4 linked regions of the Homo sapiens genome follow. The protein of the gene in region 1 interacts with the protein of each later gene in a biochemical or structural test. Each region holds a gene or a part of one and is shown on either strand. Other genes may lie near its edges. The genes, in order: GRB2, DNM1, ERBB2 and PTPN11.

Region 1 (7,031 bases):
CTTCAGGAGGTGAGCAGCAGCTCCCTGCAGCCAGCTGGAGCCTGCCAGTTTTCCCTAGTGCCCAGCACTCCTGAGCTTCTGCCCTCCAAGGGATTCCCGCAGCTCTCTCTAATGGGATAGTGGAGCGCCTGTCGGCTGCCTTGGCTTGCCTTGCTCAGGTCCACTGACTTAAATCAACCAGCCCCATCCTAGGCCCTCACAGTCACTTAAGAAGGCTGCTGCAGGGGATGTGGGGCTTGCATTTCCCCGGTGGAAAGTTCAGGTGTGAAAGGGAGCGGGTAAGCAGGGAATGGAGAAGACAGGAAGTTCTGCCGCCATGGAGAGTGTGGAGAATAGAAACCAGCACTTGAAGATTCTAAACAATTCACACCTCAGCTGTGAAGTCGGGATTTTGAATTAAATTGTTATTTCCATGTTTTTTACTTTCAGTTATTTTCTAGTTAATGTATTATCATAGGACCCTCCCCAGGAGTCCGGCAGATCACTTCATCAGTTATATATAAAGAAGTAATTAGATTCAACACTCAGATCACTACTTAGTTTAGATTACATTAAGATTGTTTTGTTTTTGAATGGGGGATAGAAAACCATTTTCCTTTTATTTTATTTACTTATTTTTGAGACAGAGTCTCGCTCTGTCCCCCAGGCTGGAGTCCAATGGCATGCCTCAGCTCACTGCAACCTCCACCTCCCAGGTTCAAGCAGTTCTCCCTGCCCCACCCTCCGAGTACCTGGGATTACAGGTGCCTGACACCACGCCCGGCTTATTTTTGTATTTTTAGTAGAGATGGGGTTTTGCCATATTGGCCAGGCTGGTCTTGAACTCCTGACCTCAGGTGATCCACCCACCTCGACCTCCCAAAGTGCTGGGATTACAGGCTGGAGCCACTGCTTCCAGCCACCATTTCCCATTTATAACTGATGTAAAGCGTGAGACTTTTCCATTTCAAAAATGAACTGACCAGCCTGGCCAACATGGTGAAACCCTGTTTCTGCTAAAAATAGAAAATAACCCAGGCATAGTGGCACACACCTGTAGTCCCAGCTACTTGGGAGGCTGAGGCCAGAGAATCATTTGAATCCAGGAGGCGGAGGTTGTAGTGAGGCGAGATGGCGCCATTGCACTTTAGCCTGGGCGAAGAGCAAAACTCTGTCTCCAAAAAAAAAAAAAAAAAAAAAAAAAAAACTGGGTGCGGTGGCTCACACCTGTAATCCCAGCACTTTGGGAGGCCGAGGCAGGCAGATCACCTGAGGTCAGAAGTTCGAGACCAGCCTGGCGAACATGGTAAAACCCTGTCTCTACTAAAAAAAAAAAAAAAAAAAAAAATACAAAAATGGCCTCGGCGTGGTGGCGTGTGCCTGTAATCCCAGCTACTCAGGAGGCTGAGAGAGAAGAATCACTTGAACCCGAGAGGCAGATGAGCCAAGATCGTGCCACTACACTCCAGCCTGAGTGACAGAGTAAGACTGTGTCTCCCAAAACAAACAAACAAACTGAATATCTTATTTGGTTTTAGAACCACTTAATGTGTGATTAAAATGTAGATTTTTTTTTTGAAACGTAGATTTTAAATTTATAGTTGTGGCCCGGCATGGTGGCTCATGCCTGTAATCCCAGCCCTTTAGGAGGCTGAGGCGGGCCGATCATGAGGTCAGGAGTTTGAGACCAGCCTGACCAATATGGTGAAACACTGTCCCTACTAAAAAAATACAAAAATTAGCCAGGCGTGGTGGCACATGCCTGTATTCCCAGCTACTCCGGAGGCTGAAGCAGGAGAATCACTTGAACCTAGGAGGCAGAGGTTGCAGTGAGCCGAGACTGAGCCATTGCATTCCAGCCTGGGTGAAAGAGCAAGACTCCATCCATCTTTAAAAAAAAAAAAAAAAGAAAAGAAAAACATGTGTGACACCTGTCTTTCTTTAGTTTTATACTGACCCAAGTGTAACTGAAACCTTATAAGATGAGGGGAACAAGCAGTAAATCACTGGGTGGTGGCCAAAACCACGGGGGCAGCCACGTGCTCGGCTGGACGCTGCCTGTTTGCTCAGCAGAAACTCTCAAACTTCCATTTTCTCAAGTAGAATCTTTTAAGGATTTAATGCATTTATTGTTTTAGAAGCAAAGCAGGTGTCATGACTCTCTTTAACAACACACACACCTCTGCAAAAAAGGTTCAAGAATCAACAGTTGTCAGATGTTTCTTAGTTTTAGGATGTTTTGAGCCTGTGATTTGAAACACTGCTCATTATTGGGGCCCTGGGCTCTTAGAAACCACCTGCATTGCATGGGTGGAAGTGGGCCTCTGTGGGGCCAGAAGTGCCGTGGAATATACCCTTGCTAATGAAGCTTTCTCACCTTCCACATTTTGTCTTAACATGTAAAGCAGTATTTTTTCCAAATGCGAGGCATCTTGTGCTGAGTGGCTTCCTTGAGGCTCAGTGCTGCCACCTGCCGGATTGATTTTCTGAAGCCTTTGGTTTCCATCAGCTGAAAGACTGAAGGAGAGGAGGGACTCATTCATTCATTGAACAAGCACTCTCAGAGAATGCCTTTTTTTTTTTTTTTTTTTTTAATGAGATGGAGTGTCACTCTGTCGCACAGGCTGGAGTACAGTGGCCCAATCTCGGCTCACTGCAAGCTCCTCCTCCCGGGTTCACACCATTCTCCTGCCTCAGCCTCCCGAGTAGCTGTGACTACAGGCATCTGCCACCACACCTGGCTAATTTTTTGTATTTTTAGTAGAGACGGGGTTTCACTGTGTTAGCCATGGTGGTCTCGATATCCTGACCTTATGATCCGCCCACCTCGGCCTCCCAAAGTGCTGGGATTACAGGCATGAGCCACCGCATCCGGCCGAGAATGCCGAGAGTGCCCGGCCAGGTGAACAGGACAGGCAGAAGCGCCCTCGCTAGGCTGGTGTTTTAGCCAAATATCCTGTGACAGACCCTGTGAGCTAGTACCAGCCAGCCACGCTGTTGCCGGTTTTGCTTGCCAGTATAAAAGGGTGTGATCTAGTGATGGAGAAGCTTTTGGGTTTTGAAGTCTGGGCCTCTTTTATTGTCCCAGTACGTCCTTTTGTTCAGAGACCTTTTCCCCATGAGTGGAGCTAAAATTCCTGAATGGAAAACATTACTTTGAACTATTCCCAGTTACGAGAGAATTGTTGAAAGTATTTCCAGCCCTCCTCACCTTCTTCCTGCATATAAGATTTTAATTATTTTTTTATTCAAAGGATGTTAAGTCACACTCCTTTGTCTTAAGTACGGCTGTTTTTATTTGGTAGGGTTCAGGGCACATGGACTCTTTTTTTTTTTTTTTTTGAGACAGAGTTTCACTCTTGTTACCCAGGTTGGAGTGCAATGGCGCGATCTCAGCTCACCACAACCTCGGCCTCCCAGGTTCAAGTGATTCTCCTGCCTCAGCCTCCCGAGTAGCTGGGATTACAGGCATGCACCATCATGCCCAGCTACTTTTGTATTTTTAGTAGAGATGGGATTTCTCCATGTTGGCCAGGCTGGTCTCGAACTCCCGACCTCAGGTGATCTGCCCACCACGGCCTCCAAAGTGTTGGGATTACAGGTGTGAGCCACCGCACCCGGCCTGGACTCTTTATCTTACAAACATCTTCAGAATGAGAATGACTGATGGCCTGTCCCTCTCTGGTTTCTGGATGTTGTCCTGGTGCCCATCATTCATAGGGAGAGGTCCGTCCCAGGGACACCCAGTGAGGAAACTTGTTGCTCTGCAGTCCCTGAGGAGTGCTGCTGGGACAGTGGTTCTCTCGAGATAGCTCCTATATGGAAATACCCTCGATTTGCCAAGTTAGAGCCTTTAGCCGGTCACATGTGCTTTCTGTCCCTCCCAGGTTTGGAAACGATGTGCAGCACTTCAAGGTGCTCCGAGATGGAGCCGGGAAGTACTTCCTCTGGGTGGTGAAGTTCAATTCTTTGAATGAGCTGGTGGATTATCACAGATCTACATCTGTCTCCAGAAACCAGCAGATATTCCTGCGGGACATAGAACAGGTGCCACAGGTAAGCCTCATCAGGGTGAGATGGGATCATTTTTAGTTAAGAATAGCTCCTCAGTGTGCATTCCTGTAGGAAAGGGGAGGCGCCCCTCAACATGCGGGCGCCCTTCAGGGATTGCCGCTGGGGCTTCTGTGCTCCTTACTGAAAATGTTACCCTCCATTCACACTAAAGAGTTCTTTTTTCTGGCCCAGCATAGTAGCTCACACCTATAATCCCAGCACTTTGGGAGGCCGAGGCAGGCAGATCTCTTGAGGTCAGGTGTTTGAGACTAGCCTGGCCAACATGGTGAAACCCTGTCGCTACTAAAAATACAAAAATTAGCTGGATGTGGTGGCGCACACCTGCAGTCCCAGCTACTCGGGAAGCTGAGATGGAAAAATTGCTTGAACCCAGGAGGTGGAGATTGTAGTGAGCTGAGATTGCACCACTGCACTCCAACCTGGGCGACAGAGGGAGACTTCATTTCAAAAAAAAAAAAAAAAAAAAAAAAAGATTTGTTGTTTCAAATACAAGGTTTTTGCTTTTCCAGAGGCAGTGTGTAGCCAGCTTGCCAGCCTCTCTAGGGAGATGGTCTTTAACACACCCACCCAAAGATCCTGTCCCTGGAAGCAAATTATGAGGAAAACTATGCTTGTGAGGGAATGGGGTCGGCACCCGTTCCTGTCCCTCGAGCCCTGGTCGTAAGTTACGGTTAGAGCCCCTTATGTTATTCGAGCTCCAGAACTTTAGGCTTTAATACCTTAAGGGTGTCGTAGAAGGGATTTGCGATTCTGGGCCCACGGCCTAAACACAGATGGCTGTTTCTGAAGAACTTTCTCCTCCAAGCACTGCCTGCCCTCTACTTGATAATACGGCACAGTTGGCCACCCTCCTCTGGGAGACATACTCTAATATTTTCTGAGCACTGGGAAATATCACACTAAACCCGCTTGGCCTGTAAACTTAGAATAGGTAAGAATAAACGGGGGGTTGGGAGATGGGAGGTGAGTTTAAGAAACATGGAGAATTTGGCACGCATTCGTTTCCCCCTGGAACCCATCTGGCCTCGGAGGTGGCCAGTCACAGACCAGGAATGCAATGTGGGTTTTTCCTGCTCCTGTTTTGCAGCAGCCGACATACGTCCAGGCCCTCTTTGACTTTGATCCCCAGGAGGATGGAGAGCTGGGCTTCCGCCGGGGAGATTTTATCCATGTCATGGATAACTCAGACCCCAACTGGTGGAAAGGAGCTTGCCACGGGCAGACCGGCATGTTTCCCCGCAATTATGTCACCCCCGTGAACCGGAACGTCTAAGAGTCAAGAAGCAATTATTTAAAGAAAGTGAAAAATGTAAAACACATACAAAAGAATTAAACCCACAAGCTGCCTCTGACAGCAGCCTGTGAGGGAGTGCAGAACACCTGGCCGGGTCACCCTGTGACCCTCTCACTTTGGTTGGAACTTTAGGGGGTGGGAGGGGGCGTTGGATTTAAAAATGCCAAAACTTACCTATAAATTAAGAAGAGTTTTTATTACAAATTTTCACTGCTGCTCCTCTTTCCCCTCCTTTGTCTTTTTTTTCATCCTTTTTTCTCTTCTGTCCATCAGTGCATGACGTTTAAGGCCACGTATAGTCCTAGCTGACGCCAATAATAAAAAACAAGAAACCAAGTGGGCTGGTATTCTCTCTATGCAAAATGTCTGTTTTAGTTGGAATGACTGAAAGAAGAACAGCTGTTCCTGTGTTCTTCGTATATACACACAAAAAGGAGCGGGCAGGGCCGCTCGATGCCTTTGCTGTTTAGCTTCCTCCAGAGGAGGGGACTTGTAGGAATCTGCCTTCCAGCCCAGACCCCCAGTGTATTTTGTCCAAGTTCACAGTAGAGTAGGGTAGAAGGAAAGCATGTCTCTGCTTCCATGGCTTCCTGAGAAAGCCCACCTGGGCTGGGCGCGGTGGCTCACGCCTGTAATCCCAGCACTTTGGGAGGCCAAGGTGGGCGGATCACAAGGTCAGGAGTTCGAGACCAACCTAGCCAACATGGTGAAACCCCGTCTCTACTAAAAATAAGAAATTAGCCGGGTGTGGCACGCACCTGTAGTCCCAGCTACTTGGGAGCCTGAGGCAGGAGAATCGCTTGAACCTGGGAAGTGGAGGTTGAGTGAGCCGGGACCGTGCCATTGTACTCCAGCCTGGGTGACAGAGCGAGATTCCGTCTCAAAAAAAAAAAAAAAAAGCCCACCTGAAAGCCTGTCTCTTTCCACTTTGTTGGCCCTTCCAGTGGGATTATCGAGCATGTTGTTTTTTCATAGTGCCTTTTTCCTTATTTCAAGGGTTGCTTCTGAGTGGTGTTTTTTTTTTTTTTTTAATTTGTTTTGTTTTAAAATAAGTTAAAGGCAGTCCAGAGCTTTTCAGCCAATTTGTCTCCTACTCTGTGTAAATATTTTTCCCTCCGGGCAGGGGAGCCAGGGTAGAGCAAAGGAGACAAAGCAGGAGTGGAAGGTGAGGCGTTCTCCTGCTTGTACTAAGCCAGGAGGCTTTAAGCTCCAGCTTTAAGGGTTGTGAGCCCCTTGGGGGTTCAGGGAACTGCTTGCCCAGGGTGCAGTGTGAGTGTGATGGGCCACCGGGGCAAGAGGGAAGGTGACCGCCCAGCTCTCCCACATCCCACTGGATCTGGCTTACAGGGGGGTCGGAAGCCTGTCCTCACCGTCTCGGGGGTTGTGGCCCCCGCCCCCTCCCTATATGCACCCCTGGAACCAGCAAGTCCCAGACAAGGAGAGCGGAGGAGGAAGTCATGGGAACGCAGCCTCCAGTTGTAGCAGGTTTCACTATTCCTATGCTGGGGTACACAGTGAGAGTACTCACTTTTCACTTGTCTTGCTCTTAGATTGGGCCATGGCTTTCATCCTGTGTCCCCTGACCTGTCCAGGTGAGTGTGAGGGCAGCACTGGGAAGCTGGAGTGCTGCTTGTGCCTCCCTTCCCAGTGGGCTGTGTTGACTGCTGCTCCCCACCCCTACCGA
Region 2 (7,463 bases), on another chromosome or scaffold:
AAGCTCTGAGTCACACTGACAACCGTCTACATCTTGACTCCATCATTTCTTGGCTATGTGACCTCAGACATGTTCTTTACTAACCTCTCTGTGCCTCAGTTTTCTCATCTGTCAAAGGAGGCTAATAAAACTTCTTTCTCGGCTGGGCACGGTGGCTCACGCCTGTAATCCCAGCACTTTGGGAGGCCGAGGTGAGTGGATCACCTGAGGTCAGGAGTTCAAGACCAGCCTGGCCAACATGGTGAAACCCTGTCTGTACTAAAAATACAAAAATTAGCTGGGCATAATGGTGGGCACCTGTAATCCCAGCTACTCAGGAGGCTGAAGCAGGAGAATTGCTTGAGCCCAGGAGGCAGAGGTTGCAGTAAGCAGAGATCATGCCACTGCACTCCAGCTTGGAGCTGGAACAAGACTCTGTCTCAAAAAAAAAAAATTCTGCCCAGCACAGTTGGTGGTCAAAACTTTGGGAGCTCAGCCATGTATGGTGGCTCACACCTATAGTGCCAGCACTTTGGGAGGCCAAAACAGTAGGATCACTTGAAACCAGGAGTTCAAAACCAACCTGGGCAACAAAGCAAGATCCCGTCTGTACAAAAAAAAATTGTTTTAATTAACTGGGCATGGTGGTGTGCACTTGTAGTTTCAGCTATTTGGGTGGCTGAGGCAGGAAGCCTACTTGAGCCCAGGAGTTTGAGGCTACAGGGAGCTGCGATTGTGCTACTGCACTCCAGTCTGGGCAGCTGAGCAAGGTTTATCTTATCTCTAAAAACAAACAAAAAAACAAAAACAAAAAAGCTTTGGGAGCTCAAGAGAGAGTAAAGAAGCCATTTCTTTCTTTCTTTTTTTTTTTTTTTTTGAGATGGAGTCTTGCTCTGTCACCCAGGCTGGAGTGCATGGTGTGATCTCGGCTCGATGCAACCACCACCCCTGCCTCCCAGGTTCAAGCAATTCTCCCACCTCAGCCTCTCGAGTACCTGGGATTACAGGTGCGGGCTACCATGCCCAGCTAATTTTTGTATATTTAGTAGAGATGGTGTTTCGCCATGTTGGACAGGCTGGTCTCCAACTCCTGGCCTCAAGTGATCCACCCGCCTTGGCCTCCTAAAGTGCTGGGATTACAGGTGTGGGCCACTGCACCTGGCCCTGAGATTCTTCTTTTCAACCAACTCCATGTGATGCCAGGCTGCTGGCCTGGCATCAGTGATACAGCAGTATAGGATACTTAGTATAATCCCATTTCTGTAAAAACAAAATGGAACAAAATGAATATGTGCATATATGAAAAACAAAGCCAGAGAACGATCCCTAAGCTATAGTGGTTATCTCTAGGTGGGAGGATGACCAGAGGTTTTCAAATACTTGTGTAAAGTCTGGTTTTACAATAAGTTTCAATATTGTAATTAGGGGGGAAAAAGTAAAAATAATAAAAGCTGGCTGGGCATGGTGGCTCACAGCTATAATCCCAGCATTTTGGGAGGCTGAGGCGGACAGATCATGAGGTCAGGAGTTTGAGACCAGCCTGGCCAAGATGATGAAACCCCGTCTCTACTAAAAATACAAAAATTAGCTGGGCACAGTGGCGAGCACCTGTAATCCCAGCTACTCAGGAGGCTGAGGCAGGAGAATTCCTTGAACCAGGGAGGGAGAGGTTGCAGTGAGCTGAGATCACACCACTGCACTCTAACCTGAGCGACAGAGCAAGACTCTGTCTCAAAAAAAAAAAAAGAAAGAAATACAAAAAATTAGCTGGGCGTGGTGGTGCATGCCTGTAGTCCCAGCTACTTTGGAGGCTGAGGCAGGAGAATCACCTGAACTTGGGAGGCGGAGGTTGCAGTGAGCTGAGATCACGACACTGCACTCCAGCCTGGGAGACAGAGCGAGACTACGTCTCAAATAAATAAATAAATAGGCTGGGCACAGTGGCTCATTCCCGTAATCCCAACACTTTGGGAGGCTGAGGCAGGAGGATCACAAGGTCAAGAGATCGAGACCATCCCGGCCGACATGGTGAAACCCTATCTCTACTAAAAATACAAAAATTGGCCGGGCGCAGTGGTTCACACCTGTAATCCCAGCACTTTGGGAGGCAGAGGCAGGCAGATCACAAGGTCAGGAGATGGAAACCATCCTGGCTAACACGGTGAAACCCTATCTCTACTAAAAATACAAAACATTAGCCGGGCGTGGTGGCACGAGCCTGTAGTCCCAGCTACTTGGGAGGCTGAGGCAGGAGAATTGCTTGAACCCAGGAGGTGGAGGTTGCAGTGAGCCAAGATCGCACCACTGCACTCTAGCCTGGGTAACAGAGCGAGATTCCGTCTCAAAAAACAAACAAACAAACAAAAAATACAAAAATTAGCTAGGAGTGGTGGCACGTGCCTGTAGTCCCAGCTACTCGGGAGGCTGAGGCAGGAGAATCGCTTGAACCCAGGAGGCAGAGGTTGCAGTGAGCTGAGATCATGCCACTGCACTCCAGCCTGGCGACAGAGTGAGACTCCGTCTCAAAAATAAATAAAATAAATAAGTAAATAAATAATATTAAAAGCCCAGCCATGATGCCCTCTAGGCAAACATCTATAAACTGCACCCCCTCCTGGTGCCAGTCATCCAGGCTTCCATCTCTGCCTTCTCTTGTCCTCAGAGCATAATAACAGGTTGGCATGGAACAGCTGCCAGGTTCCATGCAAGTTGTGTGGCACTGATGCTCCAGCTGTCTGGTGAGCTGTTATCATTGGCATCCTCACAGCTGCAGCTTAATAAGGGCCCCCTGAGCACTAGGCCTGGGCTGTGCCCTACACAGGCATTTGATCTATTATTATCCCCATTATCCAGATTAGTTAACTGAGGTTCAGAGACGTGGAGGGACCTGGGTCACGCAGCTTGTTTAAGGCCCAGATTAGACTCCTAATCCACTCTCTGGTGCTACCAGGGAGAGGGCCTGCTTGTTCCCCATGCCTGCCTCGAAGATTCCTCCCCACAAGGGTCACTCTCTGATCACCATCTTCACAATAGCAACACCACCCTACCCCGCCCCTGCTTTCTTGCTCTGCAGGGCACGCCATCTAACAGGGCCATCGTTATTGCCCTATTTGCATATTGTCTGTCTTTTTCCACTGAATTGTCAGCCACATGTGGGTAAGGACTTTGTCCGTTTTGCTCACTGCTTTATCTCTGGAGTCTAGCATAGTACCTGGCTCAACAAATACGCATTAAATGGATGAGTAAGTGAACAGTCTCCAATTCACAGACCACTTTGTCAGCAGTGCCCCCACACTGTTCACAGCGCAGGGAAATGACTCACCGACTCCCCATGAGCACAGTGTAGGCTAGCCTTCCCTTCCTAGCCTCCACCGTGAATACTAATTAGGTTTCTTAAATGCAGAGATGGACGGCTGGGCTCAGGGCCCCATGGTCTGTCTGTGTGAAAGGGTACGCAGGGTAGGATTGTAGGAGCCCTGGATTTGAATCCCACTGTTTTACGCTGTTTTACCACCATCCTGATGGGTTGGAGCAAAGACTTCCACTCTCTAGGACAAGAGCTTCCAACTCTCCCAAGAAGGGCCCTCCAGGTGTCAGGGCCTCTGCACTTGCTGGTCATTCAGCCTGGCATGCTCTTCCCCTGATCTGCTTGCTGCTGGCTCCTTCTCATCATTTTGGTCTCTTCTCAAATGTCACTTCTGCAGAGAACACCCCCGACTCCTGCCAAGCCAATGTGAACTTTCCACACCCACAAAGATACCTTTTTTCACCCTGTTTATTTCCTCCATCCCTCTTACTATGAATTATTTTCATTTTTACTATTTCATTTATCTGCTTACTTATTTACTGTCTGTCTCCCCAGCTTGATGCAAGATCTATGAGGGCAGAGGCCTTGGCTGTCTTATTCGTTGCTGAATCTTCAGTGCCTAGGACAGGGCCTGGCTTCTAGCAGGTACCTAGTAAATATTTGTTGAATTCATGTTCCAACTTTCTCCTTCTAGAAACAAGGAAACTGAGGACCAAAGGCAGAAGAGGACATGTTGGAGATCAGAGTCAGGATCTAGGGATAGAAGCCAGCGAGATGAAGGGGAACTCATCTCGGAGTTCTGACCTCTGAGGTCAGGAGGCTGTGACCTCAGAGGAAGCCCATCTGCTCTCCAGGCCTGTTTCCTCATCGGTAAGATGGAGTGAAACATCCAGACCACTCTCCAAGAGGCCTGGTACTAGGAGTGAGACCCAACCCATTGACAAATATATTCTGCGCAGCATCCGCGCACCCCAGACACTGCTAAAGCACCCCAAAAGCCGCAGAAGGTGAAAACTACGACACCCATGATGCCCCGGACGGCGCCTGCGCACGGCGGCCGGCCCGCAGCGCCGCGGGCTCCCCCTAGCGGCGTCCGGGAGCGGTGCTCGCTCCGATCCCCGAGGGGCGGGGGCCCCGCGGCGCAGGCAGTCTGGGCGCGCGGCTGCAGCGGCGGAGCCGGAGTCGGAGCCGGGAGCGCTAGCGGCAGCCGGATCGCAGCCTGCGGGGCCCGCCGCAGCCATGGGCAACCGCGGCATGGAAGATCTCATCCCGCTGGTCAACCGGCTGCAAGACGCCTTCTCTGCCATCGGCCAGAACGCGGACCTCGACCTGCCGCAGATCGCTGTGGTGGGCGGCCAGAGCGCCGGCAAGAGCTCGGTGCTCGAGAATTTCGTAGGCAGGTAGGCGCGGCGCGCCCCCAGGCGCCGACCCCCGACCCCCGGGATCCCTGGAGTCCCCGCCCGGGGCACTGACGGCGCGGCGACCTCGCAGCCCCCGACGCTGCACCCGCGGCCGGCGCGCCCCCCACCCCCAGCCGGAGCGAGGAGGCCCTCCCCCCACCACGAGAGCCCCTCGGGGCAGCAGCGCCCCCCGCTAGTCTGCAAACGTCGTCAAGCCTCCGGCTACCGAATCACGCCCCCTCCTCCGTCCCATCCTTTAGGGCAGACAACGCTCTGCCAGAAGCCCCGGGCAAAGAGCTGCCCCCCGCCCCCAACATGGGCATGGAGAGAGCCCGCATTACTCAGCGTCTCCGTTGGGCTCCGGGAGTCCCTTGGAGCGGGCAGCACCCGGGGGCAGCGTCCCCCACACCGGGCTCAATGGGGGACATCCCCCTACCCCCATGGGAATTCCTGGGCCGTGGCAGAGGTCAGCCCCCGCATCCCAGTCCCTAGAAGAGGACGTAGTCCCGCGGGCATCGAGGACCGGGCACGGCCTCCCGCCAGCACACACACACCTCTGCGGCTCCCGCCGCCATCCGTGCGCAGCGCGGCGAGGGGGGAGGCGCGGGCTGCAGGATGAGGAAGGGAAGAGGGGAGGAGAAACCACTTCTTATCCTTTTCTGAGCAGCCGGCCCCTTGCTTCGCCACGGCCCCTGGGTGGGGGGCGCCTGTCAGTGTCGCCCTCCCCTTGGCCTGGCCAGAGGAATCGTGTTGGAGGGAGAGGCGGCAGAGGGCAGAGATGACTAAGACAGGGATGGCGGGAGGGGGGAGCCATTTGCAGAACCTAATCCCCCTCCCGCCTCTGATCCCACAAGGCGCTGAGAGGCCTAGGTGGCGGAGAGAGGAACAACCGCAAAGACAAAGGGTCGTGGGTTTAGCGGGGCAGGCAGGGTCGTGACCCGCAGGCTCCCCACAAACCCCCAAAGGGAGGCAGAAATAGTTTTTCTGGTGCTGAGGAGAGAGAAGAAAGATAGGAGCTCTCCAGGTACTGGAGGTGGGTTGGGGGGCTGGGCAGACTGGGGGATGAAGTGAGAGAGTTTACACTGACCCCGTCTTTCATCTCCCCCCCATCTTCTTCAGAAACTCTTGCTTTCTTCCAATGACCTTCAGGGCCAAAAAAGTGACTGGCACATGGGAGAGGGAGGCAGGGGCCCTTGTCCGCAGAGGTACAGCAGTTCTGTCCAAGCCAGGTTCTGCTGCAAAACCTCAGGCAAGTCACTTGCCCTCTCTGAGCCTCAGTGTCCCCATCTCTAACATGGACAGTGGGACTGGGTGGTTGTTCCTGCCCCTCAAATGTCCTGGGAAACCCATGCCAGCCCTAGAGGTGAGAGGGAGAGGGCCTGACTGGAGCCATGTGTGTGTGGGACGTTGGAAGGCCACCGTGGGGGCGGCCGTGCCCATCTGGTCAGCAGAGGGGAAGGCATCTGTCTCTCCAATGGCTCCTGCAGAGCCCCCCTTCTGATCACATGACCCCCGGAGCTGCAGAGACACAGGCAAGAGACACACCACGGGCCCCTTCCCCAAGGGCCAGCAGTCAGGGATATCCAGCAGTTTAGAATGGAGAAACCATATTCCTACCTCTCGTCCTTTGAATGTTGGCTGAACTCCTGCCCCATGCCAGGCTGCGTGCTTCAGGCTTGGGGTAGGGAGGGGACCAACTGGTGATTTCAGCCCGCATCTACTGAGCCCATCCCATGCATCCCCCTATGCTGAGTCCTTCATAGGCTCACAGGAGCTCCCAAGAGGCAGGTACCATGATGCCCATCCTACAGATGAGGAAACTGAGACCCTGGAGGTTAGATGCCTTGCCCAAGGTCACACATTCAGAAAGGGCAGCAGCTGTTAGACTCCAAAGCCCAATTCCTAATCTCGACGCTGCACATCCTCTGACAGCCGGGTCCTGCACCAGGCACAGGGACGTGTGGGTGGGTGGGCCTCCATTTCCCCATCTGCGGAATGGAAACGCTGACAGCCGCTGCCCTGCCTTCCTGAGAAGGTGACTGTGGGCTCCACCGAGTTCATGGGTGGAAAGGTGCTTTTGTAAACATGCGGGAGGGGGCGCTGATAGCCAATTAGGCTTGGGGACCTGCATGCCCAGCCCCTGCCTTCCTGGAGCCCATGACGCAGGGGCCATCCCTGACCACAGCAGATTTCATCGAGTACTTGCTTGTTGAGTGGTGGAGCAAGGTTTGGACCGTGCCCCAGGAGGCCTGGGCCCTCTGGCTGCCCTCTCCACCCCAATGCCCTTGGCCGTTGTCCCCACAGGAGGATGTGCAGGGTGTCCAGATGCAGGCCCAGGGCAGGGGAGGGGGCTTAGGTTGATGTGAAGGAGTAGGCAGAAAAGCATTCATGATCCTCTGAAAGCTAGTGAGAAGGCCAGGGAAACTGAGGCTCAGTGGGTTCCACTGTCTCAGCCTGCCAGCTCCCTCAAGGGCTCCTGACCTCTCCAACAGGGCTCAGTCCCCAGACTGGTGAGCATAGTAACAGCCATTCTGTCTCCTGGGGCTTCCCAGGAGCCAATCCCCAACAGAAAATGCTTCACAGGAAAATGCATCAGGGCTGCCCCAGGCCCACCCGGGCTTCTGGGTGCTCAGGAGGATCCTGCTGTCAACTCTGCAATGGAGGTAGCCTTGCAGCTGCCTGGGATGCTGCTAGAACTTGTCTGGGTCTATACTATTTCTTCACCCCCTTCCCTTTTACAGAAGGGAAAACTGAGGCCAATTCATTCAGTCATTTAG
Region 3 (7,031 bases), about 36 Mb from region 1:
GCCCAGACCTGCAGCCATGGGGTCCTTCCTGTCCTCCTAGCAGGAGAGGGTGGAGGGGCTTACGTCTAAGATTTCTTTGTTGGCTTTGGGGGATGTGTTTTCCCTCAACACTTTGATGGCCACTGGAATTTTCACATTCTCCCCATCAGGGATCCAGATGCCCTGGGCAGAAAGAGGAGGATATGAGTGAGAAGAGCGTGGGCTGGATCCTACCTGCCTTCCAGGAGATCATTACTTGTCCTCCAAACATCCTTCACCACCCTAGGGCTTGGCCCCGCTCCCTTCTCCGCTGTAACTGCCCTCCCCCAAACACTGCCTCCAGCTCTTGCCCCTCCCATCAGAACTGCCGACCACACCCCTCCAGGCACCGCCCCCATCCTCTGGGGCCGCCCACCCCAGGACCTGGCCCTGACCTTGTAGACTGTGCCAAAAGCGCCAGATCCAAGCACCTTCACCTTCCTCAGCTCCGTCTCTTTCAGGATCCGCATCTGCGCCTGGTTGGGCATCGCTCCGCTAGGTGTCAGCGGCTCCACCAGCTGGGGTGAGGGGGTGGTGGGTCAGTGCCGGGGGCCGGTGCAGACCCCACGCGGGCTGGGAGGACTTCACCCCGCCTCACCTCCGTTTCCTGCAGCAGTCTCCGCATCGTGTACTTCCGGATCTTCTGCTGCCGTCGCTTGATGAGGATCCCAAAGACCACCCCCAAGACCACGACCAGCAGAATGCCAACCACCGCAGAGATGATGGACGTCAGAGGGCTGGGGGCGGAAGCCAGGGTCAGGGATTGAGGGCTAGTTTGGGGTGGGAGGGACAAAGGGGGCCCACGGGGGACATGAAGGTGTTTGGCATTCGGAAAGGGAAGTCGGAAGGGTGACCCACAGGCTTGGACCCTCTCCTACTCTAAAACCTGCCTTGGCTCCCCGCTGCCTCCACAATAAAGTCCAAACTCCTTGTAGGCAATCAGAACCCTCTCCGCATCTCCAGATTCTCTATACTCTTGCCCTTGGCTCTGGCTTAGGGCTTCAACAATTCATGGTGTAAAAATCACTAAGGACTCTGGGCGCGGTGGCTCATGCCTGGAATCCTAGCACTTTGAGAGTCTGAGGTGGGCAGATCACAAGGTCAGGAGTTCGAGACCAGCCTGGCCAACATAGTGAAACCCCCGTCTCTACTAAAAATACACACACACAAAAATTAGCTGGGCGTGGTGTGGGTGCCTGTAATCCCAGCTACTTGGGAGACTGAGGCAGGAGAATCGCTTGAACCCGGGAGACAAGAGGTTGCAGTGAGCTGAGATTGTGCCACTGCACTACGGCCAGTGCAAGACTCCATCTCAAAAAAAAAAAAGTCACTAAGGAGACTGTTAATACACATGCCCCTCAACACCAAGGGGCTACGTCCTGATAAACCAATTCTAAGTTGAAACTGAAAATGCATTTAAGACACCTAGCCTGGCTTACACGTGCTCAGAACATTTACACTGCCAGCAGCTTACAGTTGGGCAGAATCATCTGACACAAAGCCTATTTTATAGTAAACTGTTAAATAAGTTTGTGTTATTTATTTATTTATTTTTGAGACAGGGCCTTGCTGTGTTGCCCAGGCTGAGTGCAGTGGTGAGATCATGGCCCACTGCAGCCCTGACCTCTGGGCTCAAGCAGTCTTTCCACCTCAGCTGCCCAAGTAGCTGGGACTACAGACACACGCCACCACACTCAGCTAGTTTTTTTATTTTTTGTAGAAATGGGGTCTCACTATGTTGCCCAGGCTGGTCTCGAGCTTCTGGCCTCAAAGGATCCTCCCACCTTGGCCTCCTAAAGTGCTGGGATTACAGGTGTGAGCCACGGTGCCTGGCTATGTAATTTATTGAATACTGAAAGTAGGGCTGGGCATGGTGGCTTGAGGCTGAGATGGGCAGATCACCTGAGCTCTCGAGTTCGAGACCAGCCTGACTAACATGGAGAAACCCCGTCTCTACTAAAAATACAAAATTAGCCGGGTGTGGTGGTGCCTGCCTGTAATCCCAGCCACTCTGGAGGCTGAAGCAGGAGAATCGTTTGAACCTGAGAGGTGGAGGTTGCGGTGAGCCAAGACTGCGCCATTGCACTCCAGCCTGGGTAACAACAGCAAAATGACATCTCAAAATAAATAATAAATAAATAAATAAATAAAAATAAAAGTGAAAAACAGAATGGCTGTATGGGTATTCAAAGTACGGTTTATACTGAATGTATATTATTGCTTTTCCACCATTGTAAAGTCAAAAAATCCTAAGTAATATCACAAATCAGCACACAGTCTGTATGCATACAATTTTGGGGCCCCACCCCCAGAGATTCTGACTGCTGCATGGGTACAGGAATGTACACCTGATGATTTTGATGTTCTAGCCAAAATTTCCACCCACAGGTCATGATTTTCCACACCTCCCAGTGTTTGCATAGGCTGTCCCTTCAGCCTGGACCACCATTTCTCCACAGGGTCATCTTTTAAGACTCGGCTCCGCCAGGCACGATGGCTCACACCTGTAATCCCAGCACTTTGGGAGGCCGAGGCAGGTGGATCACCTGAGGTCAGCAGTTCAAGACCAGCCTGGCCAACATGGCAAAACCTCATCTCTACTAAAAATACAAAAATTAGCCGGACGTGGTAGCGCATGCCTGTAATCCCAGCTACTGGGGGGCTGAGACAGGAGGATTGCTTGAACTGCTTGAACCTGGGAGGCAGAGGTTGCAGTGAGCCAAGATCGTGTCATTGCACTCCAGCCTGGGCAACAGAGCAAGACTCCATATCAAAAAAAAAAAAAAAAAAAAAAGACTTGGCTCATCGCCAGGAGTGGTGGCTCACTCCTGTGATCCCAACATTTTGGGAGGCCAAAACTGGAGGATCACTTGAGCCCACGAGTTTGAGACCAGCTCGGGCAACATAGTGAGACCCTGTCTATACAAAAAAAATTTTTTAAATTACCCAGGCGTGGTGGCACGCTCCTATAGTCCCAGCTACTGCAGAAGGGTAACTTGAGCCCAGGAGGTCAAGGCTGCAGTGAGCCTGTGATTACACCACCACATTCAAGACTGGACAAGAGAGCAAGACCCTGTCTCAATCACTCAATAAAAAGATAGCGTATCTGGCTGGGCACGGTGGCTCATGTCTGTAATCCCAGCACTTTGGGAGGCCAAGGTGGGCGGATCTTGAGGTCAAGAGATCGAGACCATCCTGGCCAACATGGTGAAACCCCGTCTCTACTAAAAATACAAAAATTAGCTGGGTGTGGTGGCATGTGCCTGTAATCCCAGCTACTTGGGAGGCTGAGGCACAAGAAGCGCTTGAACCCAGGAGGCAGAGGTTGCAGTGAACCGAGATGGAGCCACTGCACTCCAGCCTGCAGGCAGAGTGAGACTCCGTCTCAAAAAAATAAAAAAAAGATAGTGCATCCTGGGATAGATGGAGCTCCCGGGTGTTGATCCAATATTCTTGTCACCCTCTCCTCTCCATACCCCCTTGCTTAGCACAGGGTCTGGTACATACCAAGCCTGTAACACATGCTCATTTCACGGACCGATGATCGCCTAAGACAGACTCCAGTCTGTTTTTCTCCCCAAAGTCCTTTCCAAAGGTCCCCACTGCCCAGTCAAGTCCCACCCTGTGGCTTGGGGATCAGGTCCTATGGCATCCAGGTCAGACCCCACCCTGACTCTAACTTGACCCCCTTATTCCTGTGCTTACTCAACAGCCCCCGACACCAGAACTTTGAAGACATCCTGGATTTCCTGATGCCTCCCCCTCCAGTGTCACCTTGCACCCCAATGCTTTCTACCTAAATGCAAGTGCAATACCTGCTCCTCTCTCAAAGCCTAGCTCAAATGCCACCTCCCACTCGAAGCCTCCCACCATCCCCAGTTAAGAATTCATCACTCCCTCAGTGCTGCAGCTGTACTCTTCTCAGTCTCCCTTGACTTCCAAGGAATTGAACTTTGCCTGTGTCCCTCACAAGGCATCAAGTTACTCTAGGGTGTGGAGGGACTGGGTTTCCTAGCCATCTTTCCTTGCAGTCCCCTCCCCTCAGCATCTGAGCAGGTCCTCTGTCACTTGGTGAAGTGGAAAATGACAGGAGGTTCCACAGTGGAAGAGTGGGTGGGAAGGGACATATGTCAGGGGGTCCCCTCCCTACAGCAGTGACCACCCAGCATCCAGTGGGGGAGTGAAGGGCAATGAAGGGTACATCCTGGGGTCCAGGCCAACCTGGCTCTCTGCTCGGCGGGGCAGCCCTTGTCATCCAGGTCCACACAGCTGCAGGAGAAACAGTCTCATCAACAATTCTGGGAACCACCCTCTTGGGAACCACCTTTCCAGCCTCACAACAACCCTGGGAGGGGTGTGGCTGGGTCATTATCCCCATTTGACAAAGGCAGAAACTGGGCTCAAGGCCGTCAGTGCTCCTTCTACCACCTCACAAGGAGACTCCTTCTCCAGCCAAGGAACCGGCATGCCCCGCTCCCCTGCAGCTCCTTGTGGTGGATAGGAAGCGGGGAGGGGCACCCAGAAGAGCAAGCCCGGGAGCTCAACTATTCCCTCCATAGAAGAATCCCAGGGTAAACCCATACCACTTCTCCAGAGAACGGTTTGGCAATACCTATGAAATATCATCTATGACCCAGCAGTTCCTCCTCTGAATATAGACTGTACATACTGTTTGCAAATGCTTTTTTCACTTAGCAGAATCTTGCAATGTTTTTCCATGTTCTAACACCGTGATCTGGATCTAGGATCCATATGGATCTGGACCCATATTCTTTTTTTTTTTCTTTTTTTTCTTGAGAAGGAGTTGCACTGTGTTGCCCAGGTTGGAGTGCACTGGTGCAATCTCGTCTCACTGCAACCTCCGCTGCCCAGGTTCAAGCAATTCTCCTGTCTCAACCTCTCAAATAGCTGGGATTACAGGCGCCCACCACCACGCCTGGCTAATTTTTGTATTTTTAGTAGAGACGGGGTTTTGCCATGTTGGCCAGGCTGGTCTTGAACTCCTGACCTCAGGTGATCTGCCTGCCTCGGCCTCCCAAAGTGCTGGGATTACAGGCGTGAGCCACCATGCCCAGCCTGGATCCATATTCTTTTAATTTTTCTCATTTAGTTGTCTTTAAATTGAAATGCATGAATATATCCTTGTGATAAACATTGCCAGCACTGTATTCCCACTAGGGGGCATACAAAAGAGGGCTCACTTGTGTGTGGAGCTCAATTGCAATAAACTGCAAAAACAGGGAAACAAGCTCAATATCCCTCAAAAACAAAGTGAAATTACATCCATGTTACAGGTTGAGTAATTAAAAAAAAAATAAAGGTGGTAGATCCGTCTGTACTCACAAGAAAGGATACCTCAAGTCGGGGGGAAAGCAAAGTGCAGAACAGCATCACCACACCTGGCTAGTTTTTGTATTTTTAGTAGAGACGGGGTCTCGCTATGTTGGCCAGATTGGTCTCGAACTCCTGATCTCAAGTGATCTGCCTGCCTCAGCCTCCCAAAGTGCTGGGATTACAGGTGTGAGTCACTGCGCCCAGGCTCTTGACACTTTTTGGTTTACACAAACAGCAATCTTATTTGACTCGACCTAATATAAATGTAGTATGTCTATATAAGTGTGCAGAAAAGAGCCTGGAAGGGTGAACACACAAGTCAATGCGGTGGTTCTCCCAGCAGACAGGAGAGACTGGGTGGACAGGGAGTTGAGTGAAAGGGCACGTTGGCTTTGTAACATTTATACTTTTATGTTACTGAAAATGTTTATCACAAGGATGTATTCATGTGTTTCATGTGTAAAGACAACTAAATAAGAAAAATTAAAAGAATAAGGTAGATCACCATGTTAGAACATGGAAAAACATTTCAAGGTTCTGGAAAGTGAGAAAAAGCAATTTGCAAACAATATGTATGATCTATGATTCTATTTGTTAAAAAGAAATATATGACTGGGCATGGTGGCTCACCGCTGTAATCCCAACACTTTGGGGGACCGAGGCTGGCAGATCACCTGAGGTCAGGGGTTCGAGACCAGCCTGGCCAACATGGTGAAATCCTATGTACTAAAAATACAAAAATTAGCCAGGCAAGGTAGCACGTTCCCGTAATCCCAGCTACTCAGGAGGCGGAAGCAGGAGAATTGCTTAAACCCAGGAGGTGGAGGCTGCAGTGAGCCAAGATTGTACTACTGCACTCCAGCCTGGGCGACAGAGTGAAACTCCGTCTAAAAATACATATGTGTGTGTGTGTGTGTGTGTGTGTGTGTGTTAAAATGTGCACAGATAAAAATAACTGGAGAATAATATTAATATATGTTAACTTATATATACATATTAGAATGTGCACAGACAAAAATAACTAGAGGAAAAATATTTCAAATTATTAACAGTGGGGATAGAACTGCTAGGGCATTAATTTATATTTCATGTTTTAATTTTACAATTTTAACAATGTGTTATTTTTGTCATCAGAAACAAGATATGACAAAGGGAGAGTTGGTCCCCTTTTATAGTAAGAGCCCCAGAAAGACCCCTGAAAGGAAAGTCCTCCTTTCTGCAGAAAAGACCGTTGGACTCACGAGTGGGTGCAGTTGATGGGGCAAGGCTGGCATGCGCCCTCCTCATCTGGAAACTTCCAGATGGGCATGTAGGAGAGGTCAGGTTTCACACCGCTGGGGCAGCGGGCCACGCAGAAGGGAGGGTCCTTATAGTGGGCACAGGCCACACACTGGTCAGCCTCCTGGGGGGGGCAGAAAAGATTTGTGGGGGGCTGGCACTGACACCCCCAGGGCAGTAGGATCAGGCCCTTAGTTGGGTCCCCTTTGTGCTTCCCAAGGCCACCCAGCAGCAATTTTCGCCATGCTCCTGGGACAAACACCCTTGCTCTTCACCCAGTCTCTGTGGCCCCTCCCTCGGGGCCCTCCTCCAAGCTTGATCCTGGGCAGGGACTTGAGCCAGAAAATGGGAGGCACCCAGAGAGGAAAACGCATTACCTAAGGTGTAACAGCGAGTAACAA
Region 4 (4,503 bases), on another chromosome or scaffold:
CTACCTTTTGATAAGCAAAATTTGAAACCATTTAAAGACCACTGTATTTTAACTCAACAATACCTGCTTCCCAATTACTCATTTCCTCAGATAAGAAGAAATCATCTCTACAATGTAGACAACATTATATTTTATAGAATTTGTTTGAAATTGAGGAAGCAGTTAAATTGTGCGCTGTATTTTGCAGATTATGGGGATTCAAATTCTAGTAATAGGCTTTTTTATTTTTATTTTTATACCCTTAACCAGTTTAATTTTTTTTTTCCTCATTGTTGGGGATGATGAGAAGAAATGATTTGGGAAAATTAAGTAACAACGACCTAGAAAAGTGAGAACAATCTCATTTACCATCATGTATCCAGTAGTGGATAATTCATTTTGATGGCTTCTATTTTTGGCCAAATGAGAATTAAGCCAGTGCCTGAGACTGTCAGAAGTTGACCTTTGCACTGGCATTAAAGAGTCATAGAAAAAGAATCATGGATATTTATGAATTAAGGTAAGAGGTGTGGCTTTTTTTTTTTTCTTTTTTCCAGCCGTTGACCAATTATAGTTCGGCTGTTGACTGAGAAGTTTGTGGTGGGAAAACGTTTGCCATATTTTCTTTGCATTTGAATAATTGTCTTGTACTTAGAAAAAAGGCGTCTATGAATGACCAGTGTTTTTGGTCGCCAAATGTTGCTGACAAACTTATCCCAAAACTTTAGTGGCTTAAAAAAACCTGCCCCCAACTGTTAGTCAATCTGAGCTGGGCTCAGCTGGGCTGTTCTTCTGCCAGCCTGCAGGTGGCCACTCATGTGGTCAGCAGGTCGGCGGAGAGACTGGGATGGCTGGGCTTCTCTCTCTGCCTGCAGTCCTGAGTCTCTCCTTCTTCGTGTAGTCTCTTTCAGTGGCCTGGCTGGCAGGGTAGCTAGACCTCTCACATGCAGCTCAGAGCTCCCAAGAGCTCAAAAGCAGAAATGGCCAGGCCTTCTGAAAACTTAAGTCCAGAATTGTCACAGTGTCCCTTCTACTTCCCTCTATTGATGATGATGATGATGATGATGATGATGATGATGATGATGATGATGGTTTTTTCTAATCAGAAGAAAGCTGGGGTATGCCCTCTACTTACTAAACAAGTCACAAGCCCAGCTCAGATTCAAGAAAAGGGTGTGAAGTAGAGGTGCAGTTAAGTGGGGGGCCACTAGTCTAACAGACGGTCACAACCAGTGCCATGGAAAACCAAGGATATTAGCAAAAGCAGAAGTTGCTAGTGACCTTGGGAAGCCGAAGCTGCTTACAGTAGCTGGGACAAGCTGAAAGTCAGACTAAGAAATAAAGAGAGGGCCTTCAAGAAGCTTCCTGAATGATTTCTGCTAGCCCTGAGCCTATTTTTGGAACCAGCACTTGGGGAAACTGATCTTGTGAGGATGGATGTGTTTAGGGACACAGGGCTTTTGAGAGCAGCACCACCCCACTGGGGCATCCCCAGACTTGGGAAACGTGACTCTTTCTTAATGCCACTGGGTTTTAGTCAGGCCACAGTGAGAAGGAACAGCCCTAACAGGCCTCCAGCCAGGTTGAATGAGCTCATTTTTGTTGTAGCCAACCAGTAAGATTTGCTAATGTTCTACATTAAGTGCCTTCTCCAAAGACATCCCTCTTTGCCTCATATGTTGAATCATCCAGTGCGGATATTTCAATGAAAATATCATTGGTTGACTTTTGTGATGGTAATAATGCTATGGCATCTTTGCCATGAAGTTGTGGCCTCCTTGGATTCTTCTGACTTTGGCTTCTGAAAGGAAGGCCTAGATCCAGCCCTGGTGGTAGTTCCTTTCTGAGGTCTCTCAGTCCCTTGAGACTTTGGGGTAGTTTGGCTGCCATTCTCACTGACAAAATGTATATCAGCCCCCACCTCCACCCCCCAATATTCCTTGAACTTTGAATTGCTTCAGAACACAGGTGTGGCCTGAAGGTATTCCCTTATTAGGGAAGTGTCACTGCTGTCTTCTAGTCAAACTTGTAAAGAAAAAGATTCCAGTTCAGTATTTGCAGCAAGAAGCTTGAATGCTGTTCTTTTTATCGCATTGTTACATCGACTCATTCTCCATTTTGCTTTGGTTTTGTCTTGACTTGACTTGACTTTGGGGGTAAAGTCTTTCACCAGCACACAAGAGTTTGATTGTACAAATATATCTTCTGCATTAACATCTCTGCCTGTTGCTTAAGATCAGTTGCTTTTATACTCAGAATGGAAATACCTGATCTTGGCTAGTTTTGTTATAAGATATTGATTTCATTTAGATTTCCCTCCACGAGGTCAGCAAACTATCATGTTCTTATGTAAACTTAGGCCAAGGCCAGAGTTATCATAGTCCCTAGGTTGCTACGGCTTATCATGTGCTTGGTAAAAGGTGATCGCAGGTTCTCAGACGAGTTTACTTTACATGAGATGGAATCAGGCAGAGAGGCTGGGATGATGGAGAAAGCTCGAGGTGAAGTTTTAAAAAAAAAGTTGTGGAAAGGAAAGTTCCAAAGAGGTGGTTTCTGAGGAAGTCAGAGCGCCCAGGGCCAGAGCAGTCAGTAATGGGTGAATGAGGTTGTTTGGAAAGTCGGTGTGACAGACACATGGATGCCATCTACTTCTAGGTTGCTGGTGGGTATTAAATATGCACAATATTCCATAGCTCACTGAGGATTTTAAAATTATAAGCATAGGATTTTATATTTTGGGGTGAAAGAATTATCTGGCACATTAGGTATTGGAGTTTAAAAAAAAAGCCAAATTTCACAGTCTTAATAACTTTTTTTAAAAAAAACTAAAAGGCGCTTCATGTCCAGTGTGTGGCCCTTCTGAAACTTATGGTCATCTCTCCCACTGAAACCAAGGTCTTTTCAAATGTGGCTAAATGGGGATGAGGAGACACGGGTAGGACTTTCTTGGTGTGTGTGCATTCTTTAAAGAGCCAAGTTGCTTCGGGGAAACAGCCAGGAAAATGGTCAAGATTATTTTTAGAGGTTATTTTATTGGGGATTTTAAGAACTAATAACATCTTGAGTTATTTTTAATTCAGGGGGATGTGGAAAGGTTTGCAATTGTCAAGTGTTTTGTTGTAGCTTAGTATCCATAAGGGAAACTTAGACTATAGACATAACTACAAAGCCAGTGCAGCTTTTGTTTTCTGTATGTTGTTGGGGGATCAACTTTCACACATAGCAAGCACATGGCCTCCCTGATGTCAGGATGCCTTTGTTAGGATCTGTATTTGCCCTTAATTTTGTTGAAATCTTTTTTCCTTCTTCCTCTTGAAAAGTTCCAAAATATAGTTTATTGTATCTTTCATCACTAAAAATTTGTTCCTTTTTCACTATGGGCAGTTCACACAAGGCAAAAACTATTGAACAGTTGGTTTTAGTGTGTTGTATAACTTTGCTGTATATCAAACTAATTTTGACAAGTTTTCATCCTAAGCCTCAAATCATGTAATTAATAATTTGCCTGTTTATTTATGACCTAATTGTGATTCTTTTATTAATAAAAGCTAATGGGAAAAGGATCCCTGATTAAGCTGATGACTAGACCTACAATTAATTTTCCTGCAGTATATGAAGTATTGTACCAGAGTATTAAAAGATATGTAATATTTTATTGATAAATCTATCCTTTAAAAGGAATACGTTTTAGGATGTCATCATTTTGATGTGAATCATGTAAATGTTGATAATATGCTGTTTATTATACATTTAGTGTTTCAAGAGATTCACTTAATTGCCTTTTTGCCCACGTATATTATGTAGTCTATTTGCAACTGTTCTTAAAAAAATGACATTAAAAGAATAGTTTATGTAGAGAAACATTAGTGGATGTTAATTGTCTCCCCACCTATATTTATGGGTGTTAGCGCAACTGCTTTGCTAGTTGCAAAGCTGTATTATCAGAGTAAAAGTGTATTTGTAAACTGTATGGGAACTAAAAATTAGGAATAAAACCATTTTCTTATATGATGGCATTTGTCGTTTGCTTCATCAGAAATGTCCAGGAAAAAAATGGGATTATTGGTCACTCCACCTCTCACACTGGCAAAATACTGACATTTAGCAGCTCTTATCTAGAAGTGACTTGGAACATAGAATAAAGGCATGAGTTCCTGAAGAATTCATTGAGTGTTTCCTGTAGAAATAGCTTTAGGAGATAGGGAGTTCTATCTGGGAGAACATATGAGTAACTCAAGAGTAAAAAGTATAGTCTGTGTAAACTATAGAAGAAATGCTGGGCATGGTGGCGCGCCCCTGTAATCTCAGCTACTTGGAGGCTGAGACGGGAGGATTCCTTGAACCCAGGAGCCCAGGAGTTTTAGACCAGTCTGGGTAACATAGTGAGACCCTTTCTCACCTACTCTCACTGCATGCCCCCCAAAAATATATATGTGCGCGCACGCGCGCGCACACACACATACACACACACACACACACACACACACACAGAGGAAATTGTTAGAAAACACACAGAACTGAATG

What was found.
Region 2: the proteins of GRB2 (region 1) and DNM1 form a complex in vitro, tested with the Homo sapiens proteins (5 studies listed by BioGRID and IntAct, with this or other methods).
Region 3: the proteins of GRB2 (region 1) and ERBB2 form a complex in vitro, tested with the Homo sapiens proteins (4 studies listed by BioGRID and IntAct, with this or other methods).
Region 4: the proteins of GRB2 (region 1) and PTPN11 form a complex in vitro, tested with the Homo sapiens proteins (4 studies listed by BioGRID, with this or other methods).

Annotation. Positions count from the first base shown.
Region 1 is NC_000017.11:75,318,663-75,325,693, reverse strand, and holds part of GRB2 (growth factor receptor-bound protein 2), read left to right. Parts: intron 1-3,866; coding exon 3,867-4,035; intron 4,036-5,140; coding exon 5,141-5,326; 3' UTR 5,327-7,031. UniProt on the Homo sapiens protein: Non-enzymatic adapter protein that plays a pivotal role in precisely regulated signaling cascades from cell surface receptors to cellular responses, including signaling transduction and gene expression.
Region 2 is NC_000009.12:128,198,946-128,206,408, forward strand, and holds the start of DNM1 (dynamin-1), read left to right. Parts: upstream 1-4,433; 5' UTR 4,434-4,525; coding exon 4,526-4,686; intron 4,687-5,240; exon of another isoform or gene 5,241-5,277; intron 5,278-7,463. UniProt on the Homo sapiens protein: Catalyzes the hydrolysis of GTP and utilizes this energy to mediate vesicle scission and participates in many forms of endocytosis, such as clathrin-mediated endocytosis or synaptic vesicle endocytosis as well as rapid endocytosis (RE).
Region 3 is NC_000017.11:39,717,043-39,724,073, reverse strand, and holds part of ERBB2 (receptor tyrosine-protein kinase erbB-2 isoform a precursor), read right to left. Parts: intron 7,008-7,031; coding exon of another isoform or gene 6,906-7,007; intron 6,755-6,905; coding exon 6,594-6,754; coding exon of another isoform or gene 6,590-6,593; exon of another isoform or gene 6,417-6,589; intron 4,288-6,416; coding exon 4,240-4,287; intron 756-4,239; coding exon 617-755; intron 537-616; coding exon 414-536; intron 163-413; coding exon 64-162; intron 1-63. UniProt on the Homo sapiens protein: Protein tyrosine kinase that is part of several cell surface receptor complexes, but that apparently needs a coreceptor for ligand binding. Essential component of a neuregulin-receptor complex, although neuregulins do not interact with it alone.
Region 4 is NC_000012.12:112,505,924-112,510,426, forward strand, and holds the end of PTPN11 (tyrosine-protein phosphatase non-receptor type 11), read left to right. Parts: 3' UTR 1-3,995; downstream 3,996-4,503. UniProt on the Homo sapiens protein: Acts downstream of various receptor and cytoplasmic protein tyrosine kinases to participate in the signal transduction from the cell surface to the nucleus. Positively regulates MAPK signal transduction pathway. Dephosphorylates GAB1, ARHGAP35 and EGFR.